Linked DNA regions of Homo sapiens: region 1 is linked to region 2. The links come from fine-mapping of genetic effects on gene expression. A gene starts in region 2. The other region holds a variant in brackets. All regions are shown on one strand. Distances are from middle to middle. Region 1 has its middle 71 kb from the start of HOXA1. Region 2 holds the start of HOXA4 (homeobox A4).

Region 1 (5,376 bases), 110 kb after region 2:
AACCTCAGCAAAGGGTAAAGAGTTTAAAAAAGAAATTAAATACCTTAAACATGTGATGTTTAGTACTTTATTAAATGCTTCTTTTAATGACAGTATCAAGGAACAGTTTCATCTTAGGCATTCTAAGGTTAATAATCACATATGTAGGATTTTATGTCATAGTTTTGATATGGATTCATGGTTTCATACTGTTGATAAATAAGAAATAGCTTGTAAGCTATCACAGATCATCACTGTACTTTAAAAAATGGAATATAGCTGAAAAACGCAAATATATAATTTACACCAGTGTTACACAAATGTGATTTTAGGGATTGACAGTGAAATGTAAGTTTTTTTTGTTTTGTTTTGTTTTTTGAGATGAGTAGAGTCACACTCTGTTGCCAAGGCTGGAGTGCAGTGGCATCATTATGGCTCACTGTAGCCTCAATTTCCTTGTCTCAAGCGATCCTCCCATCTCAGCGTGCTAAGTAGCTAGGACCATAGTTGCATGCCACCACACCTAGCTAATTTTTTATTTTTTGTAGAAATGGGGTCTCCCTATGTTGCCCAGGCTGGTCTTGAGCTCCTGGGCTTAAGTGATGCTCTCATCTTGGCCTCCCAAAGTGCTGGGATTACAGGCAAGAGCCTCTGTGCTCAGCCTGATATTTTAAAATGTTAATGTTGCAAAAGATTTTCTGATCTGCGTGGTTAAGAAAGAAAACTTAATATTGCTTCTGATATTCAGCTATAAACTCAGGTGTTGTTTTGGAGGGACTGGTTTTTTATATCAGAAAGACAGTTATCAATATTCAGTATCAAAACAGTTGCACTATTGATTTCTCTTTCTCCCAATCGGCCCCAAAGAGACCACATCAAAGGAGAGTACATTTCAAGCCAATAAGCTGCAGGATGTACACCTAACAGACCTCATAGAAACCTTACCAGAAAATGGGGACTGGGTAGGGAAAGAAACTTTAAAAGATCAGCAAACTGCCAGCCCACGGACTGCAGAGGCTGTCACAGCCAGATGGGGGTGGCCAGGGTGCCACAAACCCAAGGAAGCAAAGTTTCAAAATAATACAAAATTTAAAAAAATTTTGTATATAAGGTATTCAAGGTTTCTCCAGCACTGACTGATACAAAGCACAATGAGATGGCACTTTTAGAGATAGCAACTTCAAACCCAGAAAAGGCTAATGAGATGAGTTTCACATGGCTAAATCAGTGGCGAAAACATAATCTTTCTTTCTTTCAAGAAGGTAGGAAAGCAATTAAGTAGTCACCTCAACCTAAGGGGCACGTGATCCATTCTGTAAGCAGTTGGGAGGACAAAAATTTGGTCTCAGAGGTCTTACCATCTTAATTTGGTCACTTCTAATGAAAAAAATTTGAAATAACGTTGTCCAAAGATATCTTTCTTTGTTTTTTTTGAGACAGAGTCTCACTCTGTCGCCCAGGCTGGAGTACAGTACATGATCTAGGCTCACTGAAACTTCCGCCTCCTGGGTTCAAGTGATTCTCCTGCCTCAGCCTCCTGAGTAGCTGGGATTACAGGCACACGCCACCACGCCTGGCTAATTTTTGTATTTTTAGTAGAGACGAGGTTTTACCACGTTGGTCCGGCTGGTCTCAAACTCCTGACCTCGTGATCCACCTGCCTTGGCCTCCCAAACTGGTGGGAATACAGGCGTGAGCCACGGCACCCAGCCAGGTTTTCAGCTTTAAAATATCTTTTTTGTTTTTTTTTTGTTGTTGTTTGGCTAACTCCTCCTGGAATCACCTTTCTGGTTTGGCTGGTATTTTGTACAGAGCAACGAGGTTTCTCATAGTGGAGTCTTTTCCTGGGCTCTGTTTGGCTCTCAGTAAGGCAGGCCTATACTTTTTCCTCTCCTCTATGGAGAGGGCAATATGCATTTAGCTGAAAAGTCACCTTCCGAAAGTGAGAAAGGGATTAGATTGCTGCTTCAGAGCTGTGGAATTATTTGGAATGTTTTGCAAATGGTTGCTACAAAACAACAAAAAAGGTAATTACAAAATGTGCGCATCGTAACATGCTTTTAAAGACACTTGCACATCATAACATGCTTTTAAAGACACTATGCATTGTGCTCACATTCCCTTAAATGTTGTTTCCAAAGGTGCTCAGCCTTTAGCCCAGCTGGAATCTCCAGGAAGAGGCAGAGACAGTTTGGCAAAAAAGAAACAGGGAAGGAGGGGGCTGCGAAAGTAGAAAGCAGCCCCCAAATTAAAGATCAGCCCTCAGTTAAAGATCAGCTTC[A/G]GGCAGGCCGGCCTCAGGTGGAGTCAGGGACAAAGGGAGGAGCAGCAGCAGGGTAGGACTGGGGTGTTCTACATCTCATTCAGGTCAAGCAGAGTCTGGTACAGCATCCTTTGTGTACAGAGGTTCTCCTCTTTGTTGCATTTCAGTTTATATTCCAAGTCATCAGTTGTCTTTTCCAGCTTGGCTACCAATCTCTCAGTAAACTCAGCACGGGTCTCTGCCTCCTTGAGTTTGTCAGTGAGAATCTTGATCTCTTCCTCATATATGTCTTCTTTTTGAGAGTATTTTTCTTCAGCATCACTTAGACACTTCAGGTTCTGGTCCATCAGTCTGATCTGCTCATCTGTCTCTTGGCAGCGGGACTCTGCCAGCTCAGCTCGTTCCTCTGTGCATTCCAAGTCTCCTTCAATGATCACCAACTTACGAGGCACCTCTTCATATTTCCTATCTGCCTCTTCTGCAATATGCTTAGCTTCTTTGAGTTGGATTTCCTGGAGTTCCATCTTTTTGTTTGTTTGTTTAAGACAGAGTCTCACTGTCTCGCCAGGCTGGAGTGCGGTGGCGCGATCTCAGCTCACTGCAACCTCCGCCTCCTGGGTTCAAGCGATTCTCCTGCCTCAGCCTCCCGAGTAGCTGGAACTACAGGCGTGTGCCATCACGCCCAGCTAATTTTTTGTATTTTTAGTAGAGACAGGGATTCACCGTGTTGGCCAGGATAGTCTCAAACTCTTGACCTCGTGATTCGCCTGGCTTGGCCTCCCAAAGTGCTGGGATTACAGGTTTGAACCACTGCGCTGGGCCCTTTTCTTCATCTTTTAAGGCCTGGTTTTATTTGTTTGTTTTGAGACGGAGTCTCACTTTGTTGCCCAGGCTGGAGTGCAGTGGCACGATCTCGGCTCACTGCAAGCTCCGCCTCCCGGGGGTCACGCCATTCCCGGGCCTCGGCAAGGCCTGGTTTTCAATAACCTTCATATCTCTTTCACTCTCATCAGCAGCTTTCTCCTCTTCTTCCAGCTTTTGCAGGGCAGTGGTCAGGCGCTCCTGAGCATGGTCCAGCTCCTCTTCAAACCTGCTGGATCCTACGATTCAAGGAGGCCACCTCAGCCTCCTTGTTCCCGGCCCACTTTTCTTCCTCAACTTCTCACTGGAGGCGCTCAGCTCTCTCCTCTGCATCATCTGCCTGCTGCTGCAGAACCTGGATCTTGCACTTCACTTCCTCCATGGTGGCGATCCCAGCCATGGTGCCGACCCAGCTACTGCTCCAGTTCTGGTTCCTGCCTCTTCTGCTCAGCATTGCAGCTGCTTCTCCTTTCTTTTATTTTTCTGTATTAAGTTTTGTTCCCTTTTGTTTTTAAAGCAACAGATGAAAGGAGATAAAAATGTCAAGGAAATACTGACTTGAACTTTATAAATATTGGTTCTGATTGGGGATGATAAAGCAGGTAAAAGAAAGGAGCTGAAGTATGACTGAAGGAATCAGATTTCTCTAACCTTGATATTCAAATTGTATTCTATAGATATGATTATAAATAGCAAGATTCTTTAGCATTTGGAGTTAATTAAATTGTGAGGAAGTTATCAGGGCACATTTTGTGTTCTTCATTACTCTGAGAAACTTTTCTGAGGTTCATTGAGAAAAATATTTTTAAACTCTGTGAAATCCAAGTAACTCTGGAGGAAAAGCAAATTGAGCAATTTGTTCTTTCCTCTTTGAGGTTTGATAAGGTGTAAAAATGTATTTAACAAAACAACTTCTTTTTCCTTAAAAATTTTGATCAATAACCCTGAAAAAGTTTTTTTTAATTCAATTCAGTATGTTAATTTTATGCTTTCCATAAATACATTTTTTGAATATTTAAGGTAACAGTTTCAGAAACATAACTGAATAGCTTGCTTGTTCTTGAACAAAGAGTTTGAATCTATGATGAACTAAATTAAGTTATGTCTTCCCAAGTAGTCCACTTAGACACTGACTTGTTACCCTCTTTCTCAAGTCCAGTTTTTCTGAGACTGGACCAGTTACATTAGGATCACCTTGGGTCTTTAGGTGTGATTATTGTATTGTGATAATGCTAAAAATATTCATTCTTTTTAGAGATACAAACTGAAGTGTTAGTGGATAAAATGTCAAGATATTTGGGATTATTTTAAAAAGAAATTAGGATGAAGGGTAAATGAGTGGCAATGTAGATGAAACAAGACTGGCCATATGTTTATTTATGGAAGGTGAGTGAGGAGTATGCGGGTGATGTTATAGTATTCTCTCTAATTTAGTTTAGGTTTAAAATTTCTATTGCAAATAGTTAAAAGAATCATTTGTGGTCTTGTTAAAAATTCAGATTCCTGGACTCCACCACAGATCTTTTAAGTCAGAGTCTCAAGGATGAAAGATAGAAAATGGCTTTTAAAGTAGTCCACTTGTGCTCACTGAAGTTTGAGGATCACTGGTAAAAAGTTTCCTTATGTACCTCACTCATTGTGTATCCATGTCATCCGTGTGTATTTAGTGTTTTTCATCATTCACCCTATTTTCCCATTTGCGGAATGCAATAGCAAGTTAAAGCAATTATACTGAATTTGGATAATTCAAACTTTAAAATTTTGTTTCAAAGCATTCATAAAGTGAAGCCAAATAAAATTTAAAAAACCTTTATTTTTAACTGAAATAATCAAATAAATACGTTGGCTTTTTTTTCCACTTTCAGCTGGGAATGGATTACTTTTGTGAATGTCTTAAATTTCTTCTCTTACCAGGGCATCAGCATCCTATTCCAGACATCTACTTGCTTTCACCAGTAGTTCCTTGTTCTTTCTCAGATGTACCATATTACCAGGCACCTCTGAGACTTTGCTTATGGGATTCCCTCTAATTGAGACATTCATCAATCCCCTCTTTACCTGGTTAATTTCTATACCTTCTCCCCACCGCTAACACCTCTCACTTATTCAGGGAGGCCATTATTGTATTTGCAAGGTTGGATTGCATTCTATTCTTTTGTGGTTCCATAATATGCTGTAATACAATAGTGCTATAATGCTGAACATGCTATATAGCACTTTACACTTTGTCATAAGACTCTATTTTTCTGCCCTCCTCTCTCTCTTCAGCTAGACTA
Region 2 (5,376 bases):
TGAGGCTAAACAACAGAATTTTGTGTTTTAGTGTCTGTAAATATTAAACAGATATGGTTAAGACCCTAGTACTCAAGGCTGATGACATGAGAAGGAGGGAAGATTTCCTTGTCATGCTTTTTGTCCCCCTGAAACTTATAGGGTTCAGATTTGTAATACGTATGTCTATATATTATTTATATTACATTTTATATAACCTATGTGTATATTATTTTTTCTTGCTAGGGAGAGATATTGGTTCAGGTAGATGTATCACATTCTAAATTTTTCCTCCAGTCTAGAGAGGATGGCTAAAGATTACACTCAGTGTTGATTTCTGTCTGTGGCTCAAATTTCTTTAAAAACAAATTTTCAGGGTGCCTCATGTGAATGGACAGCACTCTTCACACTCATATACACCTAACGTGGAAAATCTCTTTGTACCTCTTCAGGGTGATTCCAGTTAGAAAGCTAATATGATCCCCTTTTTAACCTCTTTTCCTAAATTAGTTTAAAGATTAGTCCCATATAATAGGCTTTATGTGGCTAAGCATTAAGTGACTATCCATCAAATGGATATATTCCAGCATTTAGTAACTCATATGAGTAACCAGTATGAATGAAGATAGAATTGACATTCCTTTTCAAGTGTCTCCAGGCTTAGGAAATAATTTTCCTTGTCTGCGTTCCAGACTCAGTTGTGAGAAGGCTGTTTATACTGCTCTTTGAAAAATCAACTAAGGTGCACCAGCTGAAAAATCCTTGCTTTTGCATGCCAATATGAAAATATTTTTAGAATGGTGACTATGCTAGTTTACACTGCTTTAATTTAGGCTGAAAAGTAGAGGATCTAGATATGTCTACTACTCAGAAAAGAAAGGGAGAAAGCACACAGCACAAATAAGGCATCAGTATTTACTTCAAAGATCAACATTAGGTGGAATTAATAAGTAATTTATTTGTTAATAATGGCGTAATTAGTGTACCCATCAAATTTCAATTACCAAATAGCAGGCAACAGTCTCCTCTCCCTCCTTTCCGGAGCTTCTGATATCGTTAATACGCTAATTTTCAGCAATTCAGAAATTATAGACTGTCCTGCAAATATAACTCTAGCCTCAGATACTGCCTGAGAAAGCAGGATCTAAAAGAGAAAACATGAAATTCTTAGCTGGAAAAGACCCATCAGCGATCAGACCCGGCAAGGTGTTTATTCTACCCTTAGCTTGTTTTTGTTTGGGGATAGTTCTGAAATAGGAAGTTATTGTTTTCAAAGCTCGGTTCTGTGGAGGTGTTGCTTCTATCCATTCCCATCCTTGGGCCACCTTCTCTCTCACAATCGCACCTAGTAAATGCGGGCATATTTAGCTCTCACATCGACAACCCCCGTCAAATTAGATGCTATTACGAAGGTTCCAATTTTTCTTAGGAAAACACGAAACAGATTGTCTCTGAAAGAAGGAAAAAATGAAAAGTGTCCATCCAGTTATAATGGAATGGCCTCGATTTACATCCTTGGGTCGATTTCTCTTAGCTGCCCGCCCACCCTTTGCAGCTTCTGCCAAGCTTCTCAAAGCAAGGGCTCTCAGGCTGACACGCAAGGAGCAGGGTGTGGGGAAGGGGGATCTGCGGTTGAGAAAATGTGTCTGGTGGCCTCTCAGTGGCGTACATAAAAACCAGGATGCCCCTCGGTCCCAACGCCCTTCCTTTCGCCTGTTAGCCTAGAACCCCTGAAGGACACGAAGCCTGACTGGGTTGCGCCCGAGGTCAGCGCTGAGTCGCGGCCGCCAGACAGCCCGAGGCCTAGGCCAGCAGTAGGGCAGGCAGAGGGCTCCCGAGAGGACCTACAGCCTGACAGGGCCTGAATTCCCAGCGGGAACCAAAGCTGGGGGGCTGGGGTCCAAAGCTCCTGCTCCCTCCCCCAGCCCAGGGGCCGGACAGCAGCATCCATCACGCACCCGCGCGTTTCCTGATCCGGGTCCGCGCGCGCGGTGCGCCCATTGGTGGGGGCGCTGCACGTGGGGCACGGGGCGGGGCGCGCGCTGGGCTGGGGAGGAGCGGCTCGAACTTTGGTGGCGGCGTCTGCGGGAGGGGGAGGAGTGGGCACTTGACAGCGGGGGGAGGGGAAGGGCGCAGAGGAAAGGGGGATGGGAAGCGAGGCAGGAGGGGGAGGGGCCTCGGCAAGCCCAGAAAAAACGACAACGCGAGAAAAATTAGTATTTTTGCACTTCACAAATTAATGACCATGAGCTCGTTTTTGATAAACTCCAACTACATCGAGCCCAAGTTCCCTCCCTTCGAGGAGTACGCGCAGCACAGCGGCTCGGGCGGCGCAGACGGCGGCCCGGGCGGGGGCCCCGGCTACCAGCAGCCCCCAGCGCCCCCGACCCAGCACCTGCCGCTGCAGCAGCCCCAGCTCCCTCACGCGGGCGGCGGCCGAGAGCCCACTGCCTCCTACTACGCGCCGCGGACCGCCCGCGAGCCCGCCTACCCTGCTGCCGCGCTGTACCCCGCGCATGGGGCCGCGGACACCGCCTACCCCTATGGCTACCGCGGCGGCGCCAGCCCCGGGCGGCCGCCCCAGCCCGAGCAGCCCCCGGCGCAAGCCAAGGGCCCAGCGCACGGCCTGCATGCGAGCCACGTCCTGCAGCCCCAGCTGCCGCCGCCCCTGCAGCCTCGCGCCGTGCCCCCAGCGGCCCCGCGGCGCTGCGAGGCGGCCCCCGCCACCCCAGGCGTCCCGGCAGGGGGCAGCGCCCCCGCGTGCCCGCTGCTCTTGGCCGACAAGAGCCCGCTGGGCCTGAAGGGCAAGGAGCCCGTGGTGTACCCCTGGATGAAGAAGATCCATGTCAGCGCCGGTACGTGGCGCCGCTTGGGAGGCGCGGGAGGTGGGCCGGGGCTGGGCCTGGGTTCGAGGGTCGGGGTCAGGAGGGAGAGGCTCAGGGGAAGGGGGCCTCGGGAGGGGAGCCCCCATCTGACCCGGGCTGCGGTGAGATGTGGGTATGTGCGCGCCAGCCAGCCGCCTGATCCCAACATGAGAACCCTTTTGTACCCAGGGTCCCTTTATCAGGAGATTTACGAGACGCCAAACTGTTAGGGCAGTAATTATAGCCCCCATAAATTTAATTGCCCTGGCAGAGGCTTCAGGCCATGTGTCTTTGAAGCTTTTCTTCAGCCCCAATGCCCAGCACCATTCTTTATGGCTCTCGGGTGTTTCCCGTTGTCAATAGCCTGTGAAACATTTTCTTTGCCGTTTTATGTATCTTGCGTGAACTTGGTGTCAGGTTATTATATAATGATGATGTCCAATTGCTCTTCCCCACCCCACCTTCTCTCTCCTCCTCCTTTCCCTCTCTTCCGCTCCCTCCTCCTTGGCCTTCTATTTCGGGGTTCTGGGTTTTCAGTTAACCCCAGTTATAACGGAGGGGAGCCTAAGCGCTCTCGAACCGCCTACACCCGGCAGCAGGTCTTGGAGCTGGAGAAGGAGTTCCACTTCAATCGATACCTGACCCGGCGGCGCCGCATCGAGATCGCCCACACGCTCTGTTTGTCTGAGCGCCAGGTCAAGATCTGGTTTCAGAACCGGAGGATGAAGTGGAAGAAAGACCACAAACTGCCCAACACCAAGATGCGATCCTCCAATTCGGCCTCGGCCTCTGCCGGCCCACCAGGGAAAGCACAAACTCAGAGCCCACACCTCCATCCCCACCCCCACCCGAGCACCTCCACACCCGTTCCCTCCTCCATATAATCTTCTAGAGATCTTAACCAGTTTCTATCCCTTACCTGCTTTTCTCTTCTCTTCTCCTGCTCCGTTCCTCATCCACCCCTCCCCATCTGGACCATAATAGACACCAAAACAAACCCAAATTGGTGAAAAGAATAATCAAAAAGAAGACATTATCCGGTTAAGAGTCTGTGCTGGTTGCCACCCAAGAGAGAACAGTTGTCCAGGATGCTGGCTGGTGGAACAACCTGCTGGCCCGAAACAAGGCTGCCAGGTGTGGATACCTGAGAAGGACTACTTGGTATCAAATACTTTTGAGATGGCTACAGTCAGCTAGCTGGACAGCCCATGCTGAGTGGGGACATACACTTGCATCTTTGTTGAAAGCAGAAGAAGACAGACCCTTTCCCCACCTTCCTTACCTCCTCTTCCCCCATTAAGGCAGCTCATCCAAGCTTGTATTTAACTGAATAAATGAGTAGACATTGTGGACCTCACAAGATTATTTAATTCTTAAGATGTGTAGACCTTGATGGTAGGTGTGACATGTTAGTTTTTCTTACTTGCATTTATTTAAGACACTGTTACAGAGATACTGTTGTCCCCTTCTGGGGCACGGTCTTTGGGGAGAGGGGAGTGCATTTAGACTTATGTGGAACTGTACAAATTGTGATGTGGCTACATAGAAAGCCATGTGCTAAGAATAAACTCCATTTAAAAAACATTAAAAATCTAAGATTCATGTGTTTTCTAAGCTTTTCATTAAGAAAACAAAAGTCCTCTGGATTGAGATACTTGACCTTGCATGTAAAAACCTTGTAGATAGCTTGAGCTGGATTCACTTGGATTCTGACGGCTCACATAATTTGTGTGTGAGAGTGTGTGTATGTATGTTCAACTTGAGCTGAACTCTTGTCAAGCTTGGCCTACTGTGGAAAAGTTCCAAAGAGTAGGAAGGCTCTTGAGCTCTGAGAGGGCTCCTCTTCTTCCCAAACTTGGCCAGGCTTTCAGGCTTCAAGTCTCTGTAAGGCATAGAAACGTGTCCTTCCCTGCAATGAAAGTTGAAACCATGCAGTGCTGTGGGCCCAGGAGTTTCTGCAGCTGTTCTACACACTGAACTCTGAGCACACTTGGAAAGAAGTGGTCTCTTTGGTATTTGGTATTTGTTGCACCTTCACACTTAATCTGCCTGTTTCCCAGGAGATAAAAAATAGTTTGTGCAAAGGGTTGAGATTAGTTTTTGTTTCCTGGCTGTTCTTAAGGTCCTCTTCACTAACTACAGACTGGGAATTTTTGTTTGTTTGCTTGTTTGTTTCTCTTTTTTGAAGAAAGAGCTTTCAAATAAACTGAATTTTACAAGTACACTCTCCAATGTCTCTTCTGAGGAAAAAGCATAATATACCCCTAAAGTTCACCCCATGCAAAGTAGACCTGGGAGAGTTTACTGCTGGAAAATAGCCAAACTGGGTCACTTTCCTCAAATGCTTTGTGAATTTTCTGCTCGATTCCAGAGATCTAGATCCAAAAGGCTGAAAATCAAAACCCACTTCTCGATCTCTATAACCCTAGTATTTGTTTACTGATTTAGATTTGATGCTTACTGCAGGGAGTTCCCTACAATAAGACCACAAAAACCTGTGCACACTAGCCCCAGAATATTAGAACTGTCACCT

The links. PIP is the estimated chance that this variant, and not a neighbour inherited with it, causes the effect. A credible set is the group of variants that fine-mapping cannot tell apart.
Region 1: its variant is the best candidate, but not a certain one, in a credible set for the expression of HOXA4 in whole blood (TOPMed, PIP 0.70).

The regions. Positions count from the first base shown.
Region 1 is chr7:27,021,862-27,027,237 of GRCh38, reverse strand. It overlaps the pseudogene TPM3P4. Among named protein-coding and RNA genes, the nearest start is that of HOXA1, 71 kb to the left of the region's middle. The variant A/G (reference allele first, on the strand shown) is at 2,261.
Region 2 is chr7:27,127,576-27,132,951 of GRCh38, reverse strand. HOXA4 (homeobox A4) reads left to right here and starts at 2,195. Exons shown (of 2, transcript NM_002141.5): 1 at 2,195-2,834; 2 at 3,381-4,427. The coding sequence starts at 2,219. The coding sequence ends at 3,727. All of the region lies in intron 2 of HOXA3 (homeobox A3), which reads left to right. HOXA-AS2 (HOXA cluster antisense RNA 2) reads right to left here. Exons shown (of 4, transcript NR_122069.1): 4 at 4,192-4,752. RefSeq lists a silencer at 1,968-2,037.